2 linked regions of the Homo sapiens genome follow. The protein of the gene in region 1 interacts with the protein of each later gene in a biochemical or structural test. Each region holds a gene or a part of one and is shown on either strand. Other genes may lie near its edges.

Evidence for each region.
Region 2: of the proteins of FBXO10 (region 1) and GCSAM, one has a biochemical effect on the other in vitro, tested with the Homo sapiens proteins (one study listed by BioGRID).

Annotation. Positions count from the first base shown.
Region 1 is NC_000009.12:37,526,609-37,542,857, reverse strand, and holds part of FBXO10 (F-box only protein 10), read left to right. Parts: intron 1-1,083; coding exon of another isoform or gene 1,084-1,089; coding exon 1,090-1,674; intron 1,675-4,914; coding exon 4,915-5,748; intron 5,749-10,799; coding exon 10,800-10,949; intron 10,950-13,597; coding exon 13,598-13,734; intron 13,735-16,249. UniProt on the Homo sapiens protein: Substrate-recognition component of the SCF (SKP1-CUL1-F-box protein)-type E3 ubiquitin ligase complex. Mediates the ubiquitination and degradation of BCL2, an antiapoptotic protein, thereby playing a role in apoptosis by controlling the stability of BCL2.
Region 2 is NC_000003.12:112,129,564-112,146,490, reverse strand, and holds the start of GCSAM (germinal center-associated signaling and motility protein), read left to right. Parts: upstream 1-13,242; 5' UTR 13,243-13,370; coding exon 13,371-13,399; exon of another isoform or gene 13,400-15,963; coding exon of another isoform or gene 15,964-15,977; coding exon 15,978-16,046; exon of another isoform or gene 16,047-16,927. Other genes in the region: SLC9C1 (solute carrier family 9 member C1), read left to right, coding at 5,210-5,219. UniProt on the Homo sapiens protein: Involved in the negative regulation of lymphocyte motility. It mediates the migration-inhibitory effects of IL6. Serves as a positive regulator of the RhoA signaling pathway.

The sequences.
Region 1 (16,249 bases):
AATCAAACTAGCTTGAGCAAAAGGGGGATTTAGTAGAAGGCCATTGGGATATCCTACAAAATTGAAGGAAGAACTGTAGATTCCAAGACATCTTTAAGAATCTGGAATCAGTACTATCAGGATACACACACACATGTGCTCACCTTGTTTTCTTCCTCTTTTTAAAGGTCATCTTTCTGTTTGGCTCTTATACCAGAAGGTTTCCTCCACATGGTGGTGAACCTGGCAGTTCCGGAGTCGTATCCTTTTTTTTTTTTTTTTGAGATGGAGATTCGCTCTTGTTGCCCATGCTGGAGCGCAATGGCACGATCTGGGCTCACTGCAATCCCTGCCTCCCTGGGTTCAAGCGATTCTCCTGCCTCAGACTCCCAAGTAGCTGGGATTACAGGCATGCACCACCATGCCCGGCTAATTTTGTATTTTTCATAGAGACAGGGTTTCTCCATGTTGGTCAGGCTGGTCTTGAACTCCCAACCTCAGGTGATCCACCTGTCTCAGCCTCTCAAAGTGCTGGGATTACAGGCCTGAGCCATTGCGCCCGGCCTGGAGTCATATCTTTATAACATCTGACCATAGAGAAAAGAGAGTCTTCCTTGCTAATTCCTGGTGGAAAAATCTAGAGTAGGATTCACATTGAAAGGATGGAGTCCTCTGACTGGCTGAGCCTTGTTTATTTGCTCACCCTTGGGCTCAGGAGATGGCAGGGGGTATTTTAAGAAAGGGACTGGAGGCCGGGTGTGGTGGCTCACGCCTGTAATCCCAGCACTTTGGGAGGCCAAGCCGGGCAGATCACCTGAGGTCGGGAATTTGAGACCAGCCTGACCAACATGGAGAAACCTGGTCTCTACTAAAAATACAAAATTAGCTAGTTGTGGTAGTGCATGCCTGTAACCCCAGCTACTTGGGAGGCTGAGGCAGGAGAATTGCTTGAATCTGGGAGGTGGAGGTTATGGTGAGGCCAAGATCGCACCACTGCACTCCAGCCTGGGCAAGAAGAGTGAAACTCCATCTCAAAAAAATAAAAAAGGGGGACTGGTAAGTAGGATAGACAGAAATCTCTTTTGTTTTGTGTCTGTCTCCTAGGTGACCATGGAGGCTGGTGGCCTCCCCTTGGAGCTGTGGCGCATGATCTTAGCCTACTTGCACCTTCCCGACCTGGGCCGCTGCAGCCTGGTATGCAGGGCCTGGTATGAACTGATCCTCAGTCTCGACAGCACCCGCTGGCGGCAGCTGTGTCTGGGTTGCACCGAGTGCCGCCATCCCAATTGGCCCAACCAGCCAGATGTGGAGCCTGAGTCTTGGAGAGAAGCCTTCAAGCAGCATTACCTTGCATCCAAGACATGGACCAAGAATGCCTTGGACTTGGAGTCTTCCATCTGCTTTTCTCTATTCCGCCGGAGGAGGGAACGACGTACCCTGAGTGTTGGGCCAGGCCGTGAGTTTGACAGCCTGGGCAGTGCCTTGGCCATGGCCAGCCTGTATGACCGAATTGTGCTCTTCCCAGGTGTGTACGAAGAGCAAGGTGAAATCATCTTGAAGGTGCCTGTGGAGATTGTAGGGCAGGGGAAGTTGGGTGAAGTGGCCCTGCTGGCCAGCATTGATCAGCACTGCTCAACCACACGCCTGTGCAACCTCGTCTTCACGCCAGCCTGGTTCTCACCCATCATGTATAAGGTGGGTATCCACATCAATAGACGGCCTTTCTAGTTCTGACCCCAGAGGCTTGCCCTCTTTTCTGGGCTTTTAATCCCTTTTTTTGTTGGAATTGAAAGTTAAGAGTTATTATTATACTCATACTCCTCTGAGTGCTGAACCAGTTGAGAAACAGGCACAGTGATCAGTAGAGTTCAGAATTCTGCTTTATTCTTGGTAAAGCAGTATTTAAAAATGGCTTGGGCTTGGAACCAAAATTCTTTTGCACCTCTTCCCTTTCCAACTGGACCAACTGGAGCCACCAGTCTAGCAGCGGCGGGAAAGCCAGGTTCTGGAAGCATGCCACTTGGTGACAGGAAGCAGAGAGCCCATTAGCTGCTCATGGAGGCATGCCCAGAGTGAGAGCCACAGAGGAAAAAGGCTATACAGGACTAGTCACCTTCAGCACATGAACCCCACCCTGTGTGGGATCAAGGAAGGGCAGGCTTTTACCATGATTTGCTAGTTCTCAAGGGCAATGGTGAGAAGGTTAGAAAATATTTGTCCAACATATTCCTTCCGTGAATGCAGAGCCAGAAGATGGTTCAAAGTAAAGCAGGTATCCAGGTGTTGGTAGTTCCTGGCAGAACAGTCTATAGCTTATACATTGCCTAGAAACTTGGATTATGTAGGTAGTCAATAAAAATTATATCGCTTTCCTGCCTGCTCATAAAAAATAAAAGATTTTTGGCCAGGTGCAGTGGCTCACACCTGTAATCCCAGCACTTTGGGAGGCCGAGGCAGGTGGATCACCTGAGGTCAGGAGTTCGAGACCAACATGGTGAAACCTGTCTCTACTAAAAATACAAAATCAGCGGGGCATGGTGGCAGGTGCCTGTAATCCCAGCTACTCGGGAGGCTGAGGCAAAAGAATCGCTTGAACCCGGGAGGCGGAGGTTGCAGTGAGCTGAGATGGTGCCATCGCACTCCAGCCTGGAGGACAAGAGTGAGACTTTGTCTCAAAAAAAAAAAATCATATATATATGATTTTTAAAAGTATATTGCCAATAACAATTGTCTCTCATGTTTGTAATGATCCTTATACCACTGGTCATTTGTGACAGATGTAGTGTGTGCATGCCATATGCCTTATAGCCATTATCTCATGGGTTCCTCTCCACATGCCTCTGAGATAGGTAATGTCATCTGATTTTATAGATGAGAAAACTGAGGCTCAGCAAGATTAAGTGACATCAAGGTCTCAGACTTAGTAAGATCCAAAGTCTATTCATAATCTAGGTGACTTTCCATCTGTGACCTCATTGGACCCCCACAGCAAACATTTGTGTAGGTGAAGTAGATGTGGTATGCCTATTTTGCAAATGAGGGCTACTGAAGGTCACAGTTGGTAAGTAACTTTCTCAAGTGGGTAATTAGGGAAGTTAGATCTCAAATTCAGGCCTTCTCATCTAAATGCTTATAAAATTACATCATGCTATGTTACCTGAAAGCTTAAAAGCTTGTGTTTTAGCCCTAGAGCATTTCAGAAGAACTGATGAACTTCTCTGGTGCTGGTCTGCAGGCCCAGAAGGAGAGTTTGTTTCTAGAAAGAAATAATGTTCCAGACCCTTCACATTTTGTAATACATTTATTCTTAGAGTAATATTTTGATTTCAGCCTCTACTTCTCCCTCAGAAGTATAGTCATAGATCCTCAAGGGATGAGGCCTGGCGTTAGACTTGTTTGTAGCCTGCCCTGTGGCTTAGTGCTTAGCATATAACATATATTAGTTAGTGTTCAGTCCATGATTGTTTTTCAACTAAAGGAGACATGGGGGCCTGGGATGGCTTTGCCTGAAAAATGCAAAGGCCAAGGCGATTTCACAGCAGTTTTCAGTGACTTCTAAGGAGAACCTTAGCAGTGGCTCTGCATCTCCAGAGAGCTGGCTTTTTTATCTTTAGAGAGAAAATGGATTTAAATAGCAAGGAAAAATTAGGTTAGCCATAAGGAAGAAATTAGAAAAGTTAAGGGGGCTTAAATTCTGGGACAATCTATCAAAGGTCAATTTTAAAACTTATTCAAGGGGTAGGTACGTCTGGATTATTAAATGGAATCATGAGATACTCCCTCATTTGATGATTCAAATACATCTGATGAAATATGTATAAAATCCAGAAACAGCTCTTTTTCAGGAATAGAGAGTGAGTGGGCCTCACCAAGACTGCTTCTCAGTTGGGCCCACAGAGCCAAGGGGCCCAAATGAATTAGGCAGGAGAGTTTGGCACTGCCCCATCCCCACTCCAGACTCTTGAGGACACTCTGCTCCTTGTGTCCCTGACCCCAGATGATAATAACTGACTTTTATTGAGTGCTAAGTTTGTGCCTAGCATGGTGCTTTGTGAACTAGTGAGCCCCATGCTGCAGACAAGGAAACTGAGGCTTAAAGAGGTGAAGTCATTTGTCCAAGATAACACTTGCAGTCAACCCCCGGAGCCCATGCTTTTTTTTTTTTTTTTTGGACACCGAGTCTTGCTCTTTCGCCCAGGCTGGAGTGTACTGGCGCAATCTCGGCTCACTGCAACCTCTGCCTCCCAGGCTCAAGCTATTCTCATTCCTCAGCCTCCCAAGTAGCTGGGACTACAGGCGCACACCACCACGCCCAGCTAATTTTTGTATTTTTAGTGGAGATGAGGTTTCACCATGTTGACAAGGCTGGTCTCGAACTCCTGACCTCAAGTGATCTGCCCATCTTGGCCTTCCAACGTGCTGGAACTACGGGCGTGAGCCACCACACCTGGCAGAGCCCATGCTTTTAACCACTGTTCAATGCTTCCTGGCAATGGCAGTATACCTTGTCCCCTCTCTTTAGAGACATATTTTGCTGTGCACCACGTGCATCAGTTGCCACACAGTCAGAACTCTTTGCCAGCACATGCGGCTAGGCCTCTCTCACTGCCTGTCCTAGCCCTGGCACGTGATTGAGACTTGAGGTTTTAGGAGGAGTCATGCTGCAGTGTGAACTTTTCTGCCATCATCTACTTGTCTCCCTTCCTTTGAGATTAGAAGGATGGAGGTGCGGGCAGCTCCAGTTTCCCTCCCTCTCTGATGCAGAGCAGCTCCCCAGTTCCTTTTGGGGACAGCTGACATCCAGACCCCAGTGGGGAGGGGAAGATGATCAGCAGAACAAATGGCCTTTCCATGTTCTACCCTCCTTAAAGGGCAGCTAGAGTCCAAAACCAATCTCATCCCTCTTACAGCCGTTTTCTTCTTTTCATTCCCCAGACAACATCAGGTCACGTCCAGTTTGACAACTGCAACTTTGAGAACGGGCACATCCAGGTCCATGGCCCGGGTACTTGCCAAGTGAAGTTCTGTACCTTCAAAAACACCCATATCTTCCTGCACAACGTGCCCCTGTGTGTCCTGGAAAACTGTGAATTTGTGGGCAGTGAAAACAACTCTGTGACTGTTGAGGGTCACCCATCTGCAGATAAGAACTGGGCCTACAAGTATCTACTAGGGCTTATCAAGTCCTCACCCACTTTTCTCCCCACAGAGGACTCTGACTTTTTAATGTCCCTGGACCTAGAGAGCCGGGACCAGGCCTGGAGCCCAAAGACCTGTGACATTGTTATCGAGGGCAGCCAGAGCCCTACCAGCCCAGCCTCTAGCTCCCCAAAGCCAGGCTCCAAGGCTGGCTCACAGGAGGCAGAGGTGGGTAGTGATGGTGAAAGGGTGGCCCAGACCCCGGACAGCAGCGATGGAGGCCTGAGTCCCAGCGGTGAGGATGAAGATGAGGACCAGCTGATGTACAGACTATCCTACCAAGTGCAGGGCCCACGCCCTGTATTGGGGGGCTCATTTCTGGGCCCACCTCTACCAGGAGCATCCATTCAGCTGCCCAGCTGCCTAGTGCTGAACTCACTGCAGCAGGAGCTGCAGAAGGATAAGGAGGCCATGGCACTGGCCAACTCCGTGCAGGGCTGCCTCATCCGCAAGTGCCTCTTCCGGGACGGGAAGGGAGGCGTCTTCGTCTGCTCCCACGGCAGAGCCAAGATGGAAGGAAACATCTTCCGGAACCTGACTTACGCAGTGCGGTGTATACATAATAGCAAGGTGCTGTCATGACTTTAGATTGGTCAGGGGGCTCCTGTGGCTATATGTAGGAAGGGTTTGATGGGGCTATTTTGCATTTTAAAAATAATTTTCTTTAAACTTATTCACGCACGCTTGACGTCATGCCCATCATCTGATTTGGAAAGGACAGAAACGCTTTTTCTCATTTCCCAGAAAGAGAGGCCCAGAGAGAGAACGTGGCTTACTCAGGGTCACATAGCAAGTTAGGCAGAATTGAGACTAGAAACTCGGGTCTCCTGCCTCTTTTCACTATGTCATGCTGCTGCTCACATATCTCACCATGTCGGAGTAGGAGAAACAAAGCCTGGATAAGAGAAAATTCAGGGAGATATGATTACTACCTTCACTCCAAACTGGAGTAGGGTTGTTGAGGAAACGTCTGTGCTGGGTACAATGAGAAGAAGGTCCAGGGAAAATTGGACACGTGATAAGAAGGGGTGGAGAGTGAGGGTGTCCCAACAGCAGAAACATCCTACGCCAGAGCCTGGGTGTGAGGTTGAATTCAACCATGCGGTGGGGCTAGGTTGAAGGATGAAGCTGGGGGTGAGCAAAAGCTACCTTACCCAGACCTGGAATCCCCCTTGAGACATTTGGGCCTTATGCTAAGAACAGTCCTTCTAGCCACTGCGACAATCAACACCTTCTATGTGCTGGGACTTAGGGCACCACAGGACAATCTGCAAATCCTGTAAATGGTTGATGACAGGAAGGCCTTCTGAAGGGAAAGACAGCCCATGCAGAAGAAAGCATGGCATAGCACCTAGATTCGAGTCTCACCTCTCCACTAACTCACTATGAACATGACCTTCACTTTCGTAAAATGAAAATAAGCATCCCTATTTTTCTTCTCTCACTGGCTATTGGAAGGTCCCATGCCGGAAGTATTCAGTAAACTAAAGAACATTGTACAAAGGTCACTCATGAGTGTTGCAGGCTTCTAAAATGGTTAATAGCAATCACATTTTAATTAATTTAAATTTAATTGTGTTTTACCCAGCCCACTTCCAAAGAGGATTTCAGGTGATGTTACTTTGAAAGCATAATGCAAGACTCCTGTACACATACATAAAAGAAAATGGCCAAATAAAAAGGGAAAGGTAATAGCTTTGCTGTCGTGACTACCACGATGAAAGGATCTGGCTCAAGCCCTCAAGGAGGGCATTCTTCCTTGCATAGTTATTGAGAATATGGCTTTCTAGTTAAAGTCTGGCTCTGCCCCTTAAGTCGGCAGGGTGAAGACGCGAGGCAAAGGAGGTGTGTGTGAAGGCCCAGAAGTAAGGGGAGACACACCCTTTCACCCTTTCAAGCAAGGCCTTGATCCTTGCTCCCCCACAGAAGGCTGTCACCTGGCTCTGTCCTCTAGAACATCCCAGGAGGGTAAAGGCTGGCAGGAGGAGCCTGGTTGCTTGAGGCTCCAAGAAGAAAAGTGTCAGCCGGGTGCTGTGGCTCAAGCCTGTAATCCTAGCACTTTGGGAGGCTGAGGCGGGCAGATTGCCTGAGCTCAGGAGTTCGAGACCAGCCTGGGCAACACGGTGAAACCCCGTCTCTACTAAAATAAAATAAAAAAAAAATAGCCAGGCATGGCAGCGGGCACTTGTAGTCCCAGCTACTCGGGAGGCTGAGGCAGGAGAATTGCTTGAACCCGGGAGGTGGAGGTTGCAAGTGAAAGCCAAGATTGCGCCACTGCATTCCAGCCTGGGTGACAGAGCAAGACTCCGTCTCCAAAAAAAAAATAAAAAAAAAGAAGTGTCACCGACTGTGATTTTCTTCTTTATGTGTCATAAATTTTAGTTGGAAGTCAGATATCTCATGTAGGACAGTGGGGACTGAGCTCTGTAGTATTTAGTTTGGAAATGGGCACACCTCTTCTTTTGCCTGGCTCTTAGGAGGTCGATCTAGTTAGGAGCTGAGCCCGTTTGAATTATGGTGATGATAGGATTATCCTCAGCGTCCCGTAGGCTTCAGCTCTCTCCAGCATTACCTCGTGCTAGTTTTCTCCGCTTCAGATCTTCCTTTGTGCCTGCTGCTCAGAGGCGATCTCCGCTGCTCTCGCCCTCCCTCAGCAGTAGACTGCCATTATTTGTCACCCTACGTGATGGCAGGGTTTCTCTCTTGTCCTGGGTCATCCTTAGTCTAGGTAGGTGCTGTGTCTGTGGTCTTGAGAGCAGGACTTTTTCAGTGACCCTGGCTCTACCCCCAGCACTAGGGGACCTCTGATGATCTGGGCCTAAGTCACTTTCCTCCCAACACCCCCAGAGATAAGAGTGTTTTCCCGCTGTTTCTCTGTGCATACGGTTTGTTTTGTAAGAGAGTTAGGGGGAAAGAACACAGGAGAGGGGCTTAATGCCTCTCTCACTTTTGTCCCCAGCCTGCGTCAGGAGGGTGCTGTCTCCAGTCTCTCATCTGCCCCCAGTTTTCTCCATGAACACCTAGTGAAGGCCACAGAGAAGTGAACAGGTGCAGCTACTCCCAGAGTTTCTGCACTCACACTAATTCACAGCTGGTCTTTAACAGTGCATTGAAAATGTTAGCTGAGTTCTTACTGGCTTGTATGACACATGCAGCCCTGCATTCAGCAGGGAAGTGCTCAGGCCTCGTCTCCTTGGAGGCGCCTGTCTTTCTTTTTTTGAGACGGAGTCTCACTCTTTCACCCAGGCCGGACTGCAGTGGCACGATCTGGGCTCACTGCACGCTCCGAAAGGCACCTGTCTTTTTGTAGCATTCAGGCTAGCCGGTTGTCCAGCAGCCTCAGCTCTGATGGGTTCCACCAGAAAGTCCATGTTTGTGTATATTCTTTCTACTTTCTCCATCCTAAGCAGAAGCTGAAACCTTACCATTTATACTCTTGTTCTACTTTAGTCTTCACAGAATTTTGTCCTAATGCAATATATTATTAGTAGTACACAATTTATAATAATATATTTTATTATTAATCTATAATTGTTTAAGACAGCATAGATAAACATTCCAGATTTTTTATATATTATCATGCTTTGGTATCCGTGGGGGCTTGGTTCCAGGATACTAAAATCCACAGATGCTCAAATCCCTTATATAAAATGTTATAGTATTTGCACCTAACCTGCACACATCCTCCCACACTTCAGTCATCTCTAGATTACTTATAATACCCAATACGATGCAAATGCTATGTAAATAGCTCTTCTACTGGGTTTTTTTGTTTGTTGGTTGTGTTTTTTTTGTTTTTTTTTTTTTGAGACGGAGTCTCCACTGTTTAGCCCAGGCTGGAGTGCAAAGATGTGATCTCAGCTCACTGCAACCTCTGCCTCCTGGGTTCAAGCGATTCTCCTGCCCCAGCCTCCCAAGTAGCTGAAACTACAGGCATGAGCCACCACGCCCAGCTAATTTGTTGTATTTTTAGTAGAGATGGGGTTTCACCATGTTGGCCAGGCTGGTCTCAAACTCCTGACCTCAGGTGATCCGCCCGCCTCAGCCTCCCAAAGTGCTGGGATTACAGGCATGAGCCAACACGTCCAGCCTATACTGTTGTTGTTTTTTTTAATTCAATTTTATTTTATTTTTGAGATAAGGTCTCACTCTGTCGCCCAGGCTGGAATACAGTGGCACAATCTCGGCTCACTGCAACCTCTGCCTCCCTGATTCAAGAGATTCTCCTGCCTTAGCCTCCTGAGTAGCTGGGACTACAGGCATCTGCCACCATGCCTGGCTAGTTTTTGTATTTTTAGTAGAAACGAGGCTTCACCGTGTTGGCCAGGCTGGTCTCAAACTCCTGACCTCAAGTGATCCGCCCACCTCGGCCTCCCAAAGTGCTGAGATTACAGACGTGAGCCACCACACCTGGCCTGTTTTTCAATTTTATTATTTATTATTTTTAATAATGTATATTCAATCCACAGTTGGTTGAATCCATGGATGCAGAACCCACAGACATGGGGGAGACAACTGTACTTATTAAACATAAAAAGAAAATGTAATTGGAAATATATCCCTTTATTAGCAGGTTGCTGGTTATGGGAACTTGTTTGAAGGAGGCTTTGTTATACCAATATCTCTAATCATCCCTTCATTTGGAGTCTCAGTAGTTTTCCACCCCAGGGTGATACACCATGAAAGATTTAGGATGTGCAAGAACAGGCCTTTGTTTTATAAAGTGGAAGGGAAGGTGGGAGAGGAGAACCTGTGTGGTACCTTACTGTCCGTGCCGTCTCAGACAGGTGGATTTTAGTGAAGGTGCATTGGAAGTGGTGGACCTGGAACTTTATTTCATTAAAAGTAGCTGCACCCTCGACCCCTGGGGAAATCTTCATGCAAACTTAGTGCATGTAAAGTTTGAAGACCACTCAGTCCCATCTTCCCCTAAGCGTCCTTTCTATCCCATCATCCAGCTATGCTGCTTGCAGGTTCTGAATATAGAGCACAGGGCCAAGCTTTGGTCCAGGTTTTAGTTAAAGGACCAGTGTGGGCCAGGTGTAGTGGTTCATGCCTGTAATGCCAGCAGTTTGGGAGGCCAAGGTGGGAGGATTGCTTGAGCCCAAGAGTTCCAGACCAGCCTGGGCAACATAGTGAGATTCCATCTCTACAAAAAATAGAAAAGTTAACAACAAAATTACTCCAGCCCACATCCATAGTAAAAATAAAAATAAACAAAAATTCAAAAATTAGCCTGTAGCCCCAGCTATTTGGGAGGCTGAGGTGGGAGGATCACGTGAGCCTGGGAGGCGGAGCTTGCAGTAAGCCGAGATCATGCCACTGCACTCCAGCCTGGGCAACAGAGCAAGACCCTGTCTCAAAAAAAAAAAAAAAAAAAAAAAAGAACCAATGTGAGACCGCTAAGGAGCCTGCAGGGCAAAGCCAGGTAGGGCCTGGAGATGGCTGTGTCCTGGGAGCACACAGTGGGAGCGTGGCTGTGCCAGCATTGAGGCGTTTCTCTTGCCTACGGGGTAAACTGCATGGATCAGGTGGTGCGGAAAAGACTCAGGTGTTCCTCCAGTGGTTTCTAAAAAAATATTTGTAACAGGAAAATAAATGGCTTTCTCTTTTCTGCTTAGATCATCATGCTCAGGAACGACATTTACCGCTGCCGAGCGTCAGGCATCTTTCTTCGCTTGGAGGGCGGTGGCTTGATTGCCGGCAACAACATTTACCACAATGCAGAGGCTGGTGTAGACATCCGGAAAAAGTCCAACCCACTCATACTGGTACTTTGTGTTCGTTCCCTATTCAGGGTGACTCTTGGTTTTCAGAAACCATTTGTGAGGATATTTAAATACACGTTGCCCTCTTGTATTTACGTGCTTCCTGTTTGCAGGTGGCTCCTGCTCTGTCCTCTGCGTGTCCTTGTGACTCTGTGTCTCTGTCTGTGTATTAGCAGTGACTTTGGACAAGTCATTTTCTGGTCATCTCCCCGTTAATAAGGAGGAGGACCAGAAAGACAGGGAAACCTCACAGGGCCCTCAGCCCTCATATGCTGTGGTTGGCTTTGAGTTTGATAAGGTTAAAGAGAGTGATGTCTGCCCTAAAGACACTTGGATCCAACAACAAACAAAAACAACAGCAGCGAACCCACCAAGTTAGTTTATTCACTTGTGTAAGAGGACATTTCGGGTATTTAGTTCTGAAGATTGTTTCGTGGTTATTGTGAGGGCATATTGAGTTTGATTTTCTACCCGTGTGAAAACCACTTAAAATCCTAGACTGTGTGGCCAGTGACACGAGAGACCAGCTCCTTTTCTGCTCTGGCTCTTCCTGAGAAGCAGGTTTGGGGTTTGGGGGTTTTTTATTTTGTTTTTACACAGATTTATGGGGTATGGGAGGAATTTTGTTACATGTATACTGAGAGACAGATTTCCTAGGAGTTGGGAAATATAACAGACTTTTTATGGGCTTGAAAAAATAATAGCCACCATTAATACATAATGCTTATTATACGCCAGATGCTTTTTTAAGCACTTCATAGATATTTACTTGTCATTTAATGCTTACAGAACCCTGTGAAGAATTATTATCATCCCTATTTTATAGTAAAGATATAGAGCCTGAAGAGGCAGAGGATCCTGCCCAAAGTCCTACACCTAGTGACAGAGCTGGGATTTGAATCCAGGCAGTCTGACTCACGGGTAATGCTGAACCCATCATATCTTAACTGCCCATAAAGATACAGAGAGAAGGCTGGGCACAGTGGCTTATGCCTGTAATCTCAGCACTTTGGGAGGCCAAGGCAGGAAGATCACTTGAGTCCAGGAGTTTAAGACCAGCCTGGGCAACATAGCAAGACCCTGTCTCTACAAAAAATTATAAAAATTAGCTGGGCATGGTAGCTCACACCTGTCGTCCCAGATACTTGGGAGGCGGAGGTGGGAGGTGGGAGGATCACTTGAGTCTGGGAGGTCATGGCTGCCATAACTATGGCATGGTCATGAGCCATGATTGTGCCACTGCACTCCAGCCTGGGCAACAGAGCGAGACCCTGTCTCAAAAAAAGAAAAAGAAAATACACACAGCTAGCCAGTGTCTCCTGCCAACCCCTTCCCCTCACTGTGTTTCTACCATGCAGCTGGTGGTTGATGCATGGCTTTGGCTTAGGAAATTATTGCCCCTCTGGCTAGAGAGATGAGGGGTTTGCCCTTCTGAGGACAGAGGGATAGCAGGTGGAGGGGGAAGGGAGTGGTATATTTTAGTCCTGGCGTTGTGAAAGGGTGTAGGGATGGAAATGCTGCTGCATACTCCTTTTGGAGCTCTTCAGCCCTGTGCGGGACTTCTCTTAGGCAGTGGTTGCTCTGATGAGCCTGCCAAATCCTTCAGGAAAAATCTGGAAAGAGTAAGAATAAGGAGAGTTTGCACACGAAACACTTTAAAGCCAACTAGAACTTTATTTCTGCGAAATCATTTTGGAAGAGATACAGCTAACTTCCCAATTTACAAAGTATAGAATTGGACTTCAGCTATAAATTAACTTAGAGTGAGATAATTTTATTATTATTCTAATCTAAAAATATTAAGTCACTGTGCAAAAGCAACTAACTGGAATGGGAAAGAGAAAAACTAGATTTCAGATCTGGCTTTTCCACAAATGTACTATATAATCGTGGGCCTGTTTTCCCATTCGCACAAAGAGATATTAGAAATGAATATCTTGCCGGGTGTGGTGGCTCACACCTGTAATCCCAGCACTTTGGGAGGCCAAGATGGGAGGATCACTGGAGGCCAGGAGTTCAAGACCAGCCTGGGCAATGAAGCAAAACCCTGTCTCTACCAAAAAAAAAAAAAAAAGATATCTCTTGGCATTCTGTAGCTCATACACCTTCTAAGACCTTATGCCCCATGGGACAGCTTGGCCCCCCAGTGTCTGCATCTTCCGCTGGCCCTCCCTAAATGAGAAAGGACTAGAAGTCAAACAACTGTGACCCCTCTCTGGATGTGGCCCCTTTAGGACTGCAGTTGGCCAACATTTGGTTGCACTGGGGTGCTGCCTTTCCTCAAGAGATGGCCTCCCTGGACCCTAGAAGTTATGGCCTGGCCAAATGATTATGTGTTTAGGGGACTCATTAGAGGCTCTGAAACTTTCAGTAGCCTGCCTTGCAGGTGAAGACCAAGAGCCCTCCTAAGAGGCTGGGCAGCGAAGACTCCAGTCTTCATAGTCTCCCTTACAGGTTTTCATGTGTGTACTGGTGCAGGAAGGGCAGGGCGGCAGTGTGACCCATTCCCTTTGTCACGGGCTAGGGCTCTTACAGTGACGTCATTTTCTCCACTGTGTTCATCCTGCCGCGGAGGTGTGGGCGGCACCTGGGCACTCTGCTTCGCTGACGTGTCTGATCTGGCTTCTGTGGTGTCTCATTTTCACTTGCAGTGTAACCAGATCCACCATGGCCTTCGCTCTGGCATTGTCGTCCTTGGCAATGGGAAAGGCATCATCCGGAACAATCAAATCTTTTCCAATAAGGAGGCTGGCATTTACATCCTGTACCACGGAAACCCCGTTGTGAGGTGTGTGCTGCTGTTTCCCTCCTTCATCTTTGTTAACCTCCTCCCTGTCTCTCCTCCATTTGAAAACACTCTTTACGGAAACAACTGTACAGATGCAAGCAGAGAAGAGACTTCACTCATCATCCCACCCCAGTAACACAGCGGCTTTTGTGTTTATGTGCCCTTCCAGTGAACTCCGTGTAGGCGTTCTATTCGGCAGTCACTACTGAGCACTTCCAACATGGGCAGGCTCTGCTCCCTGGGAGCTTACTCTAGCCTGGAGAAATGGGCACAGAAGTACCCCCAGGCAGGGATGGAACAGAGATTTCAGCTCACCTAACAGTTTCAGTTACTTGCTAGTGGTGCCTGGGGGTGCTGTGTCAACATCCTGGTGCTGCACCTGGCCTCAGCACAAAAGCATGCTGTGGTCAGGGACTGATATAAGTGATAGGTGGGAGGCAGCAGTGGCAGTCCTGGGACCCTGTCTGCCATCCCAGCTCTAGTATGGGGCAGACTGTGATAAATGCTGTCAGAGTGGTACCAGAAGGAGAGACTCATTCTGACTAGGAGGATGTGGGAAGGCCTCATTTAGGAGGTAGCATCAGAGTCAGACTTTGGAATATGGGTAAGACTTGGACTCATGGAGATAGGGGTAGGGAGGGGTCGGTGGATGTTCCTAGTAATGGAACAGCATGAGCAAAGGCAGCAGGGCACAGCAGATTCAGGGGTTAGCAAACCGTTGACGGTGGCTTGAGAAAAAATCTGACATGGTGTGACAGTGCTATAGAATATTTTAAATTGGGATGGTCCCAGAATATCTTGGGCCCTGTGGTCACTGCAGTGTGACCCTTGACGTCCTTGCGGCAGACCATCTGTGCCACACAGCAGAGTGGAAAGGAATGATGGAAAGAAAGGCTTGGGCCAGATGAGGAAGGCCTTATGTAGACCAAGCTGAGGCGGGGGAGCCTATTCTGTCTACACAGCGGGGACTCATTAAAGGCTCTGAGCAGAAGACTCACACAGTTATGTCTGTGCTTTAGGAGAATAGCTGGCATTAATGGGCAGCAAGTATATTCAGAGCGCTTTCCCCCAGCATTATTCCATAGGTACTTTGTCTCCATGTTGTTGCATGCATGGCCTTTACATTCATCACTTTGGAAAGTTTCACCATATTCCAGTATTTCGATATGCCATAATTTTTGAACCAGACCTAATTGCTGGTTCAAAAATTACGGAATATAATCCTATTTTTCACTGTTACAGACAGCTTACTAAAAACAATTAGTGGTCATAGAGCTCTTTCCCTTCTTCTGCATTATTGCCTGAACAGAAGAGTGTGTATTTGTATGTGTGTGTGCTGTTCATTGAACACACATTCCAGCCACTCTATATAAGGGGGCAGTGATATACAACATGTACAAGAACAGTCCCTGCCTGCCCCATGGAGTTGACAGTCTTATGCTGGAGATGGACACACACTCACACAGCCATGATGGAAGACTCACCAAAATGAGCACTTTACTAGGCATTCATGCAGACTGACCAAGGAACTCAGCCGTGATCTCAGCTGAGCATGTCAGGGAGCTGACATTTGAGTTGTGCTTGAAAGATAAATAGGATTTTATGGCCAGGGAAAAGGCATTCTGGGCCAGAGGCAGTGAAATTCAGGGTATGTCTGAGAAAATGGTGAGAAATGTGGTGTGTTTGGACACGAGATACCAGAGGGATAGTGCAAAGGCAGGTTGTTGCTGGACGGCAGAGGACCTTGAATGCCAAGCATGATAGGCAGAATAATGGCCCCAAGGATGTCCATGTCTTAGTCCCTGAACCCTGTGCATATGTTGCCTTACAAGGCAAGAGGAACTTTGCAGATTTGATTGAGTGAAGGACTTTGGAGAAAGATGAAAGGAGGTTATTTTGGATGATACAGGTGGGCCCAGTGTAACCACAGGCCCTTATGAGAAGGAAGCAGGGGAATTAGATTAAGAGAGCAGGGGCCGGGGCGGTGCCTCATGCCTGTAATCCCAACACTTTGGGAGGCCGAGGCGGGCAGATCACTTGAGGTCAGGAGTTCGAGATCAGCCTGGCCAACACGGTGAAACCCCATCTCTACTAAAAATATAAAAAATAGCCAGGTATGGTGGCAGGTGCCTGTAATCCCAGCTACTTGGGAGGCTGAGGCAGGAGAATCGCTTGAACCCGGGAGGCGAAGGTTGCAGTGAGCCGAGATCGTGCCACTGCACTCCAGCCTGGGTGACAAGAGCGAGACTCCATTTCAATAAATAAATAAATAAATAAATAAATAAATAAATAAATAAATAAAATATTTTAAAAAATAAATAAATAAGAGAGCAGGAGATGTGAGGACAGAAGCAGAAGTCAGAGTGATGAGGCCACAGCCCAAGAAGTGCAGGCGGCCTCTAGGAGCTGGAAAGGATGAGGAGTGGATTCTCCCCGGAGCCTCCAGATAGAACACAGGTCTGCTGACACTTTGATTTTAGCCCTGTGAAACCCATTTTGAACTCCTGGCCTCCTG
Region 2 (16,927 bases), on another chromosome or scaffold:
GGGATACAGCAAAACCAGTGTTAAGCATAAAGTTTATAACACTAAATGCCTACCTCAAAAGTTAGAAAGATCTCAAATTAACAATCTAATTTCACCCCTTAGGAACTAGAAAAACAAGAACAAATGAGCTACAAAGCTAGCAGAAGAAAAGAAATAACTAAAATCAGAAAAGAACTGAACAAAATTAAGACATAAAAGTCCACACAAAGAATCAATGGAAATAAAGTTGGTTTTTTGAAAGGATAAACAACATCAGTAGATCACTAGCTAGATTAAAAAAAAAAAGAAAGCTCCAAATACACACAATCAGAAATGACAAAGGTGACGTTATAACCAATCCCACAGAAATACAAAAGATCCTTGGAGACTGTTATGAACACCTCTACATACACAAACTAGAAAATGTAGAAGAAATGGTGTATCAGTCCGTTTTTCTGCTGCTGATAAAGACATACTTGAGACTGGGCAATTTACATAAGAAAGAGGTTTACTGGATTTACAGTTCCACGTGGCTGCGGAGGCCTCACAATCGTGGCAGAAGGTGAAAGACACATCTCATATAGTGGCAGACAAGAGAAGACAGCTTGGGCAGGGAAACTCCCCCTTATATAATCATCAGATCTCGTGAGACTTATTCACTATCATGAGAACAACACAGGAAAGACTTGCCCCCACGATTCATTTATCTGCCTTCGGGTCTCTCCCACAACATGTGGGAATTTAAGATGAGATTTGGGTGGAAACACAGCCAAACCATATCAAATAGGTAAATTTCTGGGACCACACAATCTCCCAAGATTGAATCAGGAAGAAATTGAAAAACTGAACAGACCAATATCAGGTTCCAAAATTGAATCCATAAAAAAGAACCTACCAACCAAAAAAAAAAAAAAAAAAAAAAGCCAAGGGCAGGTGGATTCACAGCCAAATTCTACCAGATATACAAAGAAGAGCTAGTACTAATTCTACTGAAACTATTTCAAAAAATCAATGAGAAGGAACTCCTCACTAACTCATTCTACAAAGCCAGCATCACCCTGATATCAAAACCTGGCAAAACACAATGAAAAAAGACAACTACAGGCCAATATTCCCAATCAACATAGATGTGAAAATCCTCAACAAAATTTTAGCAAATTAAATCCAGCAGCACATCAGAAAGTTAATATACCACGATCAAGTAGGCTTTATTTCTGGGATGCAAGACTGGTTCAACATCCAGCAAATCAATAACTGTGGTTCACCACATAAACAGAATCAAAAACAAAACCATATGATCATCTCCATAGACATAGAGAAAGCTTTTGATAAGATCCAACATCCCTTCATGATAAAAAGCCTCAACAGACTAGGCACTGAAGGGACACACCTCAAAATAATAGGAGCCATCAAGCTCCTATTATTTTTGGGACAAGCCCACAGCCAACATCATACTGAATAGGCAAAAGCTGGAACCATTCCCTTTGAGAACTGGAACAAGAAAAGGATGTCCACTCCCACTACTCCTATTCAACATAATACTAGAAATGCTAGCCAAAGCAATTAGGCAAAAGAAAGAAATAAAGTCATCCAAAAAAGAAAAAGAAGTCAAACTATCTCTCTTTACAGACAATATGATTTTATATTTAAAAAACCCTAAGGACTCTACCAAAAGGCTTCTGGAGGTGACAAACAACTTCAGCAAAGTTTCAGGATGCAGAATCAATGTACAAAAATCAGTAGCATTTCCATACACCAATGTTCAAGCTGAGAGCCAAGTCAAGAACACACTCCCATTTACAATATATACACACACACACAAACCTTAGGAATACATGCAACCAAGGAGGTAAAAGATTTCTATAAGGAGAATGACAAAATACTGCTGAAAGAAATCACAGATGACATAAACAAATGGAGAAACATTCCATGCTTGTGGATTAGAAGAATCAATATTGTTAAAATGGCCATACTGCCCAAAACAATCTACAGATTCAACACTATTCTTATTGAATTACCAATATAATTTTTCACAGAATTAGAAAAAAAATGGCCGGGTGTGGTGGCTCACACCTGTAATTCCAGCACTTTAGGACGCCAAGGTCAGGAGTTTGGGACCAGCCTGGCCAACATGGTGAAACCCCGTCTCTACTAAAAATACAAAAAAATAGCTGGGCTTGATGGTGGGTACCTGTAATCCCAGCTACTCAAGAGGCTGAGGCAGGAGAATTGCTTGAACCCAGGAGGCGGAGGTTGCAGTGAGCCAAGATCACACCATTGCACTCCAGCCCGGGCGACAGTGCGAGACTCTGTCTCAAAAAAAAAAAAAAAAAAAAAGCCAGGGCATCACAATACTATAAGGCATAGTAATCAAAGCAGCATGGTACTGGTACAAAAACAGACACATAGACCAATGGAACAGAATAGAGAACCTATAACTAAAGCCCCACACTTACAACCATCTAATCTTCAACAAAGTTGACAATACAAGCAATGGGGAAAGGACTCCCTATTCAATAACTGGTACTAGGATAACTGGCTAGCCATATACAGAAGAATGAAACTGAAACTATTTCATTCTTTCCCCTACCTTTCACCATATACAAAAATTCACTCAAGACAGATTAAAGATTTAAATGTAAGACCTCAAACCATAAGAATCCTAGATGAAAACCTAGGAAACACTATTCTCGACACTGGCCTTGGCAAATAATTTATGACTAAGTCTTCAAAAGCAATTGCAACAAAAACAGAAACTGACAAGTAGGACCTAATTAAACTAAAGAGCTTCTGCACAGCAGAAGAAACTATCAATAGAATAAACAGACAACCTACAGTATGGGAGAAAATATTCCCAAACTGTGCATCCAACAAAGGCCTAATTTCCAGAATCCATAAAGAACTTAAACAATTGAACAAGCAAAAAACAACCCCATTAAAAATGCATGAAAGACATAGACAGACACTTCTCAAATGAAGACGTACAAGCAGCCAGCAAACATGAAAAAGTGCTCATCATGACTAATCATTAGAGAAATGCAAATCAAAACCACAATGAGATACTACCTCACACCATTCAGAATGACTCTTACTAAAAAGACAAAAACAACAGATATGATGAAGCTGCAGAGAAAAGGAAACATGTATACACTGTTGGTGGGAATGTAAACTAGTTCAGCCACTATGAACAGTAGTTTGGAGATTTCTCAAAGAACTTAAAACAGAACTACCATTTGATGCAGCAATGGCATTACTGGAGATATATATATATATATACACAAATTATTCTACCAAAAAGACACATGCACTTGCATGTTCATCGTAGCACCACTTACAATAAATAGCAAAGACATGGAATCAACCTAGGTGCTCATCAGTGGTGGGTTGAATAAAGAAAATGTGGTACATATATGCCATGAAATACTATACAGCCATAAAAAAGACCCAAATCCTGTCCTTTGCAGCAATATGGATGCAGCTGAAACCCATTATCCTAAGCAAATTAACACAAGAAAAGAAAACCAAATATTGCATGTTCTCACCTGTAAGTGGGAACTAAACATTGGGTACTCATGGATATAAAGATGGCAACATTAGACCCTGGGGATTTCTACAGAGGGCAGGGAGGGAGGGGTCAAGGGTTGAAAAACTAACTACTGGGTACTATGCTCAGTACCTGGGTGATGGAATCATTTGAATCCTAAGCCCAGCATCACGCAATATACCCAGGTAACAAACTTGCACATGTATCCCTGGAATCTAAAATAAAAATTGGAAAGAAAAGGATTTTTTTTTATTATTGCCCAAAGAATACTTTCATATATTATCAGAAGATATTCTCTTTTTTGTATATTGAATTTAAGTCAGAATGATTTAGGTAATGTTTAATGCATTGATCTCTTTTACCTCAAAAAAGTAATACTGTCATAGAAAGCAGAAGGAAATACAAGGAGGTGCTGGAGATTGATAATCTTCTTGGCAGGAGGACACCCAAGTCAGCAGTTTCTTATATAATCCTATAATAATAAAAGCAGTTCAAGAATGGTCCAAAAAAAGAATTAATTGCTTACAATAAGATCAATATCTTTACTTTGGACTAATGTGTACAACATGATTAGGAAAACACTGTAATTTCAACAGGCAAACTTATGAATAAGCAATTCAAGTAAAAGACAATACCTAACAATGGAGAAAATAGTAATCTAAGAAATGCAGAATTTAAAAAAAATTATTAACATTTGCTTTTTTAATTGACAACTTTTTTATTCATTGGTAACATCTATTTCCTTTGAAACAGAAGAGGAAATAGATGAAAACTGAGGGATATTGGTTTTCTCATATTTTGCTGGTAGAAGAGTAAAAACAACTTGTAACAAAGTTATAAGAATGCTCACACACTTTGAATTAGTGATTATGCTTCTAGGGATTAATCCAAAGTAAATTATTCTTACAGTAAATGTGTACAAAACGTCCAAGGCACTACTACTTCTAATGACGAAAGAGCCCAAGTGTCTAACAACGAGATTGTCTACAGAACATCCATATGAGGAAATATTGTGCAACCATTAAAAGGGTTGGTTGTATAGATCAATGTAAAATATGAAGAGGAAGGCAAAATATGCAACATACAATATATATACATCTTTCAACATGAAAAGGGTCTAGAAAAGATCAATACAAGTTATTTAATTATGGAATTAGAAGGATGAGAATAGGAGTGGTTTTGATCACTTCTCTTATTTTATGCAGTTCTATTGATTTTATAATAAAAAGCATGATTATGAAACTATTAAACATTATTGAAATATAAATTATGTGAAAGTTATTTATTTCTTCTTAACACCCTTTACGTTCAGCAATACTGGTTTGATGAAGGGGGTTTTTATAGTCAGAACTGAAGCTCAATGAGTGGTAATGGATTAAGTCAATGCTTCTCACAATGGACAATCCTCCTCCTGACAATCCATAAACTATGCCTGTTCATTTTAGCACGCTTCAGTGGCTTCTCAGACTCTGACTCCTAGGTTAAATCATTCTGCCACCACTCTATGAGTGACAAGGGATTCACACTCACTTGCTCAATTTCCTTCCTTGGCCTTAACAAAAATGACCAAGTGTGTCTTATGGGAGTCAAATTGACCCTCTAGTACATCCTATTCTGGGTTGTAAGTCAATATTGAAAGATTCAAAAGCCCTCTATGTTTTTGTTTTTTCTTTCCGCTTCTATTAGGAAAGAGTAAGACTGTTAAGAAGACCGAAGCATGTATTAATGCTGTGGCTATGAGAGGCCTCCTGCTGCAGAAACACACTTCCCTACATCAAGAAGGAGTAACTTCAGGTTGGATCCTGTGTGGATGATCTTGGTGCTAAGCAGAAAAGAAATTTGGACCTTGAAACCAGCAGTTCAACATATATACTTTTTGCAAAATTTCCTTGATTTAAAATATTTGTTATTTTAAATATACAAAACATTTTAGAAAATCTTAGAGTAAATTTTAGTCTTAAAGCCAGAAAATAAGTTTATAGCCATCTAGATATTTTGCATATTGCTCTTACAGCAATAATGGTTTGGTTCACTTTATGAAAAATAAAATGTATTAAAATATAGTTTAAATGCTGTTCTTGATCCAAGTATTGATTTTTGTCACTCATTGTACTTCACTCATCTCGGTAGCTCTCAGAGAATTATAATAGTGAGGAATGAAAACTGATTCAGACTGAATCAGGCAACTTAGCCCTGAGTGAAACTTTCAGTAATCACTTTATTCACCATTATACTCACAGCAACAAGCACAATGCCTAGTATGTAATTTTAGATAATAGTCTTAACAGTGAAGAATTAGTGCATGCTTTCTGTATGTTAGGCATACAACACATGCCATACAGTTATGATGAACTCATTTTGTAACAATCATATAAGGTAAGTACAATTATTCCCAATTTATGAATGAGTAAACTGAAAATCTTACAACTAGGAAGAGGCAGAGCAGAGATTTGAAAACAAGTTATAACACATATCCCCCTAATATGGTAAGCCCTAAATAGATATCTGAAGAATTAATAAAAATTTAGCTTGCAGTGAGCTGAGATAGCACCACTGCAGTCTGGCCCGGGTGAAAGAGCAAGACTCCATCTCCAAAAAAAAAAAAATATATATTTAAAGATAAGTCTTCAGAGTCAGACTTCCACCTGGGGGTCTAGAAATCTGAATGCTATGCCAAATAACTGGTGGTGGGCACATTTTAGAAGCCAAGTATGGCAACTCCTGTCACAAAAGTGTCCTTGTGGAAAAGACAACTTGGTTTGTTTCTGTTGACAAAGTCAAATCAAACTGCTACCACTTCTCTCCAAAACTAACCTTAACCAGTTTTTTCCCAGTGATAATTACCTGACAGCTGTTAAGTGTTTAAGGAACCCCATTAATGAGTACCCCTCCTCTCCTGAGTTCTGAACCAACTGAAAATTATGATAAAGGGTTAAAGCAGATAGAGATTAAAACATTCACAAGCTCACCATTATTACTGATGGAGCTGACATTAGATAAGGTGGTTGCCTTCTTTTCCCTAGAACTGAAAAGATTGACTGCTGTAGGCATTTGTCATTAAGCTTAATGCATAGCTGAGAACAGTAGAAAATGCAAGATTTCTAAGAGTAAATTTACTCCAAAAAGTATCAAGAAGAAGGGGATTAACACAGAATGTCCAGGCTCTACTTCCAAATACATCAACCAAATAAACCACCGCACTTCAGTAGAACAAATGAGAAAATGAAGATGGGCAGCAATATAAAGGCAATGGAGATTTCAGCCCTTGATCTAGAGCAAGGACCTAGAGAGGGAAGAAGTGTTCTCCACCAACAGTAGCTGTTACTTACAGAGAGCCTAATGTTACTTACAGAGAGCCTAATGTGTCTTCTGATACGCTATTCTGAGTGCTTTTCCCTCATTAGCTTATGCAGTCATCATATGAATTTTGGGAGGTACTTACCATCATTAGTCCCATTTTGCCAAGGAAGTAATGGGGCTTAGAGCACACAAATAAATTGCTCAAAGTCACACAGCTAGGCATGATGACATGGATTTAAATCCTCCAAGCACAATCAGTGTAATGCTTTTTAAGTTATTTAGATTTTATCATGGAAATTTAAGCCATTGAAGAAGTATTGCATACACTCCATTATATTAGTTATTGTCAATGTCATGGACTAGGTTTGTGTACTGGATTGTAAACATCTCCCTGTGGGAAAAGGCCACTACACAAGACACTGGAATATAAAATCCTGGTACCATGCATGATGTATATAACCAGCCTCATCTTCAGGGCATGGTGGGTTGTGTGCCTAGGGCTCTGTTTTTACCTGAAAGAATGTAATGTACAGACTTTGGCTGAGGAAGGTTCTTAGAGCTCACTTTCATTTGGCTCTTCAGAGGAAAGCTGTTTATTTGCTTACAATGCCCAGAATATTGTCTGCTTTTAAAATTTTTATATAAAAGGCTTTCCTTGGTCTGTTGACCCTTGAATATTTTTGTAATTTAGCTTTATTCTTTAACTTTTATAATGCTTAAACCTGGTTTGTACTTTTTCTGCAGATATTTGACTTATCTTCCATGTTCTATATTAGTTTTACTAATGAAAAACAGGAAACTTTGCAAATGAAGAAACATTCTTCCCAAGGGTCATTTATTCTCAGAGAAGTGCTGTCCCACCCTCCTGGTGGTTACAGCTAGGAGAGCATTCCCAGTGAACTGAAAAAGTTCCCATTCTGTTTCTAGGCAATCATCTCTGGATTACCATGGCTCCTGCAAAGCCAATGGAGCTATGTGCTGAAATCTCTTCACCACAAAGCAAAAGTCTAACCCCAACGTTCACCTAGAGAGTTACTGAAACTCTGTTATCTCCTCTTTAAAACAAAATATTTTTTATATGGAATAGCAGCAATTAATAGTTACAGTTTTCAAACACACAACTATCTGACATTAGCTAGGACCACTAATCAGCTCATATTCTGTATCACAAAGTATATAGGTAGAAAGTTCTATTCAGGAAGATTCCTCAGTACTCTCTCACCATGCAGCCTTTGCCCTCTTTTAAAGGGAAGCAGAATAGGGAAGTCTTAACTAAGCTATTTGACTCCTGGTTCTGTAAGAAATCTTAAATAAACCACTTCTTTTCCCAAAATAAAATGCCCCAAAATAATTTTCTTTCTGTATAATTAGTTCTCCTAATTCCCTTCCCTCATTTCACCATTGCCAGAAAGTGACTGGGCTTGGGCTAGGGCTAGGGCTAGAATTATCCCATCTAGGCCTTTGAAACTGCAGGAGTATCTAGAATCACTCTTATCACTCACTCTTACCCTAAAGGTCTCTAACGTGCCTTGTGCTGAGGCCAGCCCAGATTGTGAAAACTGCGTAAGAACTGGGAAGCCTTGACACACTACATGCAAATATACTGCTCCTTATTGACACATTGGAGTGATGTAGACCAGGTTTCAAAGTCAAGCTAAGACGTCTTTCTATGAGTACTTATTAAATAGGACAACAAATAGATATATCCACACCCCGTTTGAACTTATATCTTAGCTCTGTCACTTCCTATTGGGATATCCTTGAGCAAGTCACTTGAGCCTGGTGTTCTCATCTACAACAAAGAGGAAATGGTATTTATTCCACAGAATTCTTACATGAAGAAATTAGAAATTGTATCTAAAGCATTTAACAGAATTACTGGATTATTAGAAAGCTCTCAACAAATACTTATTGTAATTATACTTTTCTATGATCTTCAAAGGATATAGCAAAACAGTCATTGGTCATTAATTCTTTACAGCAATGCCAAAGGATAGGAAAGTAAATTTAAAGATCTCAACCCAAACGTTCTCTGATTTCCCTATCATCTGCTTACAAATATCCAGGCTTTTATTTCCAATTCAACACATACGGTTTCTTACATGTGTTAGAAATGTAGTTTCTTACACGTGTTAGGCACTGGAGTTAAACACTGAGAAGAATAAAGAGTGAATCTATGATTCAAAGATTTGTTATCTGGGCTTCTTTGTGTGGGGGTGTGTTGCTCTACTCATTTACGGAGAGGAGATATATTATTTATAGTCCAGAGTCAGTTTTACAGCAGTAAATCTATTATAAATATCCTGCTCTTTCATGCTACTTTACACAAGTGATTGATAGCTAACACTTCCACAGCTCAGCTTCTCCATCTAGCGGCCTGAGTAAAACAGAAGCTTGAAAGCAATTCCTAACCTTCCCCTAAATTACAATGGGCAGATTGATTTCCAACTCACCCTACCATGGCTCTCTGGACTCAAAGACTCTTTTAGACAATAGTGGAACTAATTAAGCCACACATGGAGCAGCATCCAGGCTGTGTCTGCTCAGGCTGCCCCAACTAGGGTCTAGGATCTGTTCATTCATACTGGTGGGAAGTCAACAATAGCCCTACTCACTGGCTAAGCACCCTGTCCATGTGGTCTCTCTTTCACAATGCTAAGACATTCTGGTCCCCTGCTGCTAGCCTCTAGGTAGTGCAAAATGTGCTGAGGCCACTGAGGAAGGGGCACTTTTAGGTTAGATTGATTGTTTTTCTTTTTTTCTGAAGGTAATAGGGAAGAGAGAGGTTAGTTATAATAGTATACCAAGATTCCTTCCGACTCCCACACATACATACCTCTTTTTCTCGTACACAAAATGGCAGACCACTGGTTGTCATCCCAGATTTTCCATACACAAGGAAGAAGCATTCAATAATTTGGAACACATACTCTATTTTTTATTGTAATTATCCAGCCTGGGAAAGGAAATGGTTTTGAAAGAGGAGAATAGGAGAAACAGACAAGGGTACCCCCAGGTTTCTTAGATCTATATGCTGTGGAAACCTGATTTTCAATATAAGCTTTGTTAAGAATATTCTTTTTTACTTCAATGCTTCATTTAATTTATTGATGGGAGGGTTTTCCTGAATTTCAAATATTTACAGAATAAGAAAATTTACCACCCTAACATCTTTCCTAGAGTCAATTACATGAGGGATTCATGAAAAAAATTAATGGAGCTACTATTGGGGAAATAGAATTAAAAGCAAAATCTCCTGCTATTTCAGAAAACCTCACCACAAAAATAGAAGAGAAAGAAAACACTTTTATTTCTGAATATTCAACCAGAATGTAATGCACACCACAGGCAATCCCCTAAAGAGATTACTAAAACAGAAAGAAATCTTCCCCTTTTATATGCCAAGAAGATATCCTCCACTGCACACATTTTCTCAAGACAAACAATGACTAGTATTCACATAAGAGGACTTGACAGCACCATTTGTCACATAGCGTTTATCTGAAATTATTTTTGTAATATATTTGCTAATTGCCCTTAAAAACTAATTTCTCATTTCTTTTTGGTTGGAGGTAGATTTGCAATTTGGAGTCAGGTGTCAACTGAAGTTAGACTCCAGAAAATTGTATTCTGGAATACTTGAGCATGGAGACTGCACATGGACATTAGGGTGTGTGCTCTGAGATAAACGAAAGCTACAGTGAGAGAACATAACCAATCCCAAAGATAATTTCAAAGAACAATGACAGCAAAGGTTAGGTGGGAGTAGTATTTGACAATGCTTATTTGATATTGTCTCTCAGAGCTGCAAACTAGATTATACAAGTCATTAGCGTCAGATAGCTTTAAAGTTGTGACCTTCCTTTACATGAATTTTCTAGCCAGTTTCCTATCCTTTGCAAGAGGTAACAAAACATGAAACCCTAGAATGTGTGAGTTCAGGCATTAGGTATATAATAAGGAGGCTCTCTGTCCAGGGCTGCTTTCTGTCTTGCAGGGGCTAGTGAGTCTTGTGTGTTTTTATTTTATTCTCACATTTGTGTTTTTTTAGAAAAGTGAATGATCAATAATGGCTTATCTTTTATAATAAAATCTTCCATTTTTAATAAGGTGCTCCTGGAAATCCCTCACAGAGCCAAAAGGAAGTTTGGAGAGCAGCCATAAGGATAAGAATGATGTGAGATGAATCTGGGGTTGCACAGCTAGTACCCTAGTTTCTCTGAAATTGTTTCTTCTAAGCCCACTCCCCATCCTTCTCCTGCCTGTTTTAGATATGACCTTTACATTACTCAAGGACAAGCAATAAAATATTTTGCACTTTGTTTTATTTCTTTCAAGGAACTTCACAAGAGCAGTCCTGTATCTGCTTTTCTTACCATTGAACCTACAGTGCCCAGCACATAGTAGGCACTCGACACATACTTGTTAAAGGAATGAACAAACAGATGAGTGACCAAACTGGAAACAACCATCAAATACAAGGATAATACAAAAATCCATGATTCCTGTCCCGAGATTTCTTTCTTTTTTAACCTTTTGTCTGTTGAGATTCATTTATGTGCAGTGAAGTGCACCCTTATTAGTATACAGTTCTGTGAATTATGAGAAATGCATACAGTCATGTGGGCACTAACACAATCAAGATAAAGAACAACAACAAAAAATTTCCTCCTGTGCTTTGAAAGTCAACACCTCCCCCACCTTTTGCTCCTGGCAACACTAATATGTTTTCTGTTCCTGTGGTTTCACCTTATCTCTAATGTCACAGAAGGTAGGCTTTAAGTCTGGTCTCTTTCACTTAGTGTAATGCATTTGAGATTGATCCAAGTTATTGCATGTATTAATAGTCCACTCCTTTTCAATGATGGTCAGGATTCTGTTGTGTGGATGTAATATAACACAGAGCTTATTTAGCAATTCACTCAATGAAGATCAGTTGGGCTATTTCCAGGGTATTTCGGCTATTATGAGTAAAGCACATATAAAAATTTGTACACACAGTCTTAGAGGACATAAGTTTCACTTGGCTAAATGCCTAGGAGTGAAATTGCCAGGTTGTACAGTAACCCTATGTTCAATTTTATAAGAAATTGCCATACTTCTGAGATGGGAGAGTTCCCTTGACCCCTTCTCGGGACTTGCGACAGGGGTGTGGCCTACTTACTTGGCCACCACCATGCTCAAACTCTCTGTGGGAGCGGGAGCACGCAGGCAAGCGGGTGCCAGGGCTTCGATGAGCACTTTTGGGCTCCAGCCCAACAGCAGCATTTAGGGATGTGTTACAATTCATGCTCTTTTAGCAGTTGCCATCCGTGGACAGCTAAGTGTTAACCCACTCAATGGAGAGTCAGGGTGGCAGCCTTTTACACCCTGCCCTGTTGGTACCCAGGTTCTTGTTCAGCATCCAGGAAGAATCAGGTTGCATGAATGGTTTGAAAGTTGATGGATGTGGACGATTTTATTAAATGGTGGAAGTGGCTCTCAGTGGAAGGGGAGCTGCAAAGGGGATGGTGCAGGAAGAAAGTGACCTTTCCCTGAAGTCTGCTGTCTCTGGCCGGGCTCCTCCCTGAAGTCATGCCACCTGAAGTTAAGCCACATCTCTGACACTCAGTTGCTTCTTCTCCTCTTGATGTTCAGCCGCTTGTCTGTCTGCCAGCTGAGGTCTGGGGTTTATATGGGCACGGGATAGGGGGGCTGGACAGGCTAAAGAGTAACATTTGGGCAGGATAACAGGGATAACTGTTCTCATTTAGGGCTTCGGTTTCAAGGCTTGAGGGTGGGACCTTTGCCAGTGAACCACCCTCTTCTACCCAGTAAAGCCCTGCCTTCTGTCCTTATCACTTCTTTCCAAAAAGGCTGTCATTTTGCATTCTCATCAGCAATGCATGAGACTTCCAGTTGCTTTGCATACCTTGCCATACTTGATATTGTCAGGGTTTTATAGCCATTGTAATAAGTATGTAAAAGTGTTCCATTGTGGATTTGATTTACACTTCCCTAATAACTACAATGTTTAGCATCTTTTAATGTTCATCTGTATAGTTCCTTTGGTGAAATGTCTGTTCAAATATTTTGCCCATTTTGTTACTGGGTGTTTGTTTTCAGATTTGAGAGTTGTTGATACTATATTTTCTACAGGTCTGTGGCTTGACTGTTTTAACCTCCTTCTGACTTTTCTAAGAAGACAACGTGATTTATAAACGTAAATATCTGTAGTGGAAAAACTCCCATGGCCCATCTGTAATTTCAGACCTGGGATTCCCCAGAGGTTCGAAGCTCTCATTGACGGGTAGTTGCTGGTTATGGCCAACAGCCAGGTTGGTTCAGGCACTGACATGTTAGGACATTCTGCACATGCGTGCCTCTAACACTCCTCCCCCAGCCTCTTCCTTCCCTCTGCAGAGACACCCTTCTCCTTTCTGCTGTCTCTGCACGGGTGGCCAGAGCCACACAGCCCTTTCTTTAAGTCAGGAGTTGCCCTGTCAGAGCACAAGGCAAGAAGGAAGTGGTAAAGGGACGGAGGGGAAGCCCTGAGAGGACTGAGAGGATGGGAAATTCTCTGCTGAGAGAAAACAGGTAAGTCTAGACTCCCTGTGGGAGAGCAGAGGAGATGGGACAGGACAATACAGCAAGGAAGAGAAAAAGAAAGCTAGTATACAGTTAGCACACTAAGTTGGGGTAGAAAGTAGTTGGGTAAGGAAACTGCCAAGCCTTCAGTGCCTACTCTGTGCCAGATACCACATTAAATTTCCCATAGGTTTTGCCTTCTCCCAAGAATCATGGTGAGCAGCTGATGGAGAATAGCTGAAAGGTGGAAAGACTTTACCAAGGAAGGTCTATATAATAGGTTACCACCTAAGAAATGAAACAACTTTCTGAAAGCCCGGGAAGGAGATGCTCTCCTGAGCTCCTCATGCTCCACAAGGAGGTCAAAATCACCACCCTCTTTCAGCCACTATTTTAAGTTTGAAATAAACAGCAAGCTTCCTGCCACCTTGAGTCTTCCTTTGATGTGCACTCCCTGCAAGCAGGTAAGCAGAGGTCATCTAGATTAAATAGGCACAGAACTCAGATTTACTTTCTGGACCTCAGCCTCTTTATTTTAAGTAGAAATAATAATACAATATCTACCTTAGAGAGTTCTAGTGTGTATTGTGCTAGCATAGTGCCTGACATAAAGTAGGGTTCAAAATTAGAAGATATTTTCTGCTTTCTTTTTCTGACCATCATCTTCCTTAATATCAAAGCCGTGCCACCAAAATAGTGCCACCACAGACAAGGTAATCTCTAGGGTATAAAGTGGGGTGATCTAGAGAGAGTAAGCGAGCCAGAGGGGGTCTTCACAGGGTTATGTTTGGAATCCCTGGTCTCAGTTCATGCTACTGGAGAGTGGAACACAGGAAAAAATGGTAGCCCACTTTTGACCACTTGCCGAAAAGAGGATTGGTGGTCCTGTGGAATATCTCATGTCCCTTCCTAAGAATCATGTTGTCTGAGACTTCTCTACCCTGGGTTGTCACAGCCCCTTGTCAATCTTCTACTCTAGCATTGTTCTAACAATTATATAAATTACTATTTTTATTACTAGATATGAGATGCTCAAATGTAGTGATTGTTTCTTATTTATCTTTGAATTCCTGGTTCCTGGCATTGTTTCTGGCATATCACGTGCACTGAATAAGTGCAAAAAAACTTTAAAAAAATTTTTTTACTTTAAAATTTTGTTTTATGTAAGAAAAAAAACCTTTTTCCAAGGTGCACACATCTTATGCTATTTGGACTTCTTATGGTTTTTTATTTATTTTAAAGAAAATTCGATTTTAAATCTAGAAAGCTTTTTGGTTTCTGCCATTGCATTCATGCTTAAAATTCTTTGCTCTTCCTAAGATAAGACAAATCAACTCACATAAGTTTTGATTTTGTTATTTTACATTTGGCAACATATATTCAATATATGGTGTCAGATGTAAATTTTTTTCCAAATAGTTGATCAGTTTGCCCAACATCTTTATTTCTATGATGATTTAAAAGGTCTCCCTTGAACCAAGTGCAGTGGCATGCACCTGTAGTCCCAGCTACTCAGGAGGCTGAGGCAGGAGGATTGCTTGAGCCCAGGAGTTTGAGGGCAGCCTGAACAACATAGCAAGACCCAGTCTTAAAAATAAATTCATTAAAATAATTAAATAAAATGTTTCCGTTAACGTATTCAAAAGTCTTGTATATATTGGTATCTAATTTTCATTGTCACCCCAACACCCAGTTATCATCTAGTCAGCATACCCCCCCAACCGTGTCTCTCCAGATCAAATAAGCTAAGAAGTCAGGGAAATTTTGCACAGAATAGAATGGCACTCATCCCTTCATGAGAGGAGCTCAGTCTCAGAGGAAGAGACCTGCCAGCAGCAAACCCAGCTTTTCCCCCTTAGTGGCTGTGGATCCTCAGACCAGTTGCCTAGCATTTTGGGCCTCAGTTTCCTCATTAGTATAAAAAATATAATGATAATATCTATCTTATGGATTTATTCTGGGATTAAATGAAATATAACACACAAAATGATTGGCATATAGTAAGTAGTGTTTAAGTGTTAGTTTCTTTATCCTCATACTCCCAATTCCCAACAAGTGGGAAGATGGGTATACAGAAATCTAACCCAAACAATGAACCAATTTATTTTCTTTATTCAATCCTTTTCTTCTCCTTCTGTCCCTTGTTCTGGGCCTCCATGCTTTCTGTGAAAGATGGTGTGATTTACACAAGACAAAGCCAGTACCTTTCCCCATTACTTGTGCATAGCTCCTGGAACTGCACCAAAGAGATGGTAGCTGAGGACCTCAGGCCTCTCTCTGGACACGGATACTCTCAAGGGTCATGACGAGGATCCCTGGATATTTGGGATCAGATGATTTAGGATCACTTGTTCATGGAGGTTGGAGAACATCAGTGGGCTGTTGCTGTGGCAATGGAGAGCATGTCAGATCAAAGGTAGCTTGCGACATGTGCTTGAGGAAACAGTATTAACATGTGTGAGGGCAACCAGTCAATTTCTGAGTTACACACAAATAGCAGAAATGAGGAAAGTCGGAAAAATTATGAAAAGAAGTGACAGGCCTGTTTAGGAAATACTTAGCCTGTTTCTGATATGTTGAGTTTCAGGCGGCAGCAGAACACTCAAGAGATGCCTTGGAATGTGAGAATGCAAAGCCCCAAACAGAGAACATCCAGGTGAGAGCAAAATCAACCAAACACCCCCCAGACCTTGCCCAAGGAGAACGAAGTATGTCAAGCCCTGGACTTCACATCCCAGTGAGAGAGGGCCCTGTTTAGACCAGTAGCAGTTGCAATAGTAACAAATGTGAAGACAGGACAAAAGATAAAATGCTTGAAAACTTTGGACAGGAGATATGCTACTTTGCTAGAAGCCTAATGTAACTCCTAGCAACAGGAACTAAGACCCTGCTAGTCCCTGTTATGCCCTGTTATAAAATAAAAGGTCTTATTTCCTGTTGTCATTTTGTTTGTCTATCTCAGGTACCTTTGTGCTCAACCTCCACCCTAGCCATTTTATTTTAAGCTATAGGTGTCTATTTCTGAAGTGACCACATGCCCCATGTTACGACAATTTTTAGAAAGTTTGTGGAGACACCATTGTGATTGCCCTGATGTTGTTAAACAAAGACCACCTCATTAATTCTTTTTGAACAGACCTTTCAAATGTCCAGCCCTAAAGAATTCTCTCTAAGGAAAGGAATAATTAAAATATGGAACTAATGTTCCAGGATCCAAGAATCCTAAGGGCTGACAAGGTCAGTTTTTCTGTGGCCTGTAAAGTTATCTGTGCTTTTCACATGGTTTCAGGAGGAGATTTTGAAAGAGGAGCAATTAAAAAACAAGCACTGTTGTTATTTTCTAACACCAATGCCCGCGTTAGGGGCTGGAGACCCAGAGATTCCTTTCAACAGGGTGAATTTTTTCAGTTCAAGTTGAGAATTACATATTTTCAGGGGTATCATTGGGCATATTTTAAGGCATACAGTTCAAATGATGAAATAAATCAGAAGGGCCACGGCATTATAACAAGGGAGAGGTTGGGTAGACCAGAGAGC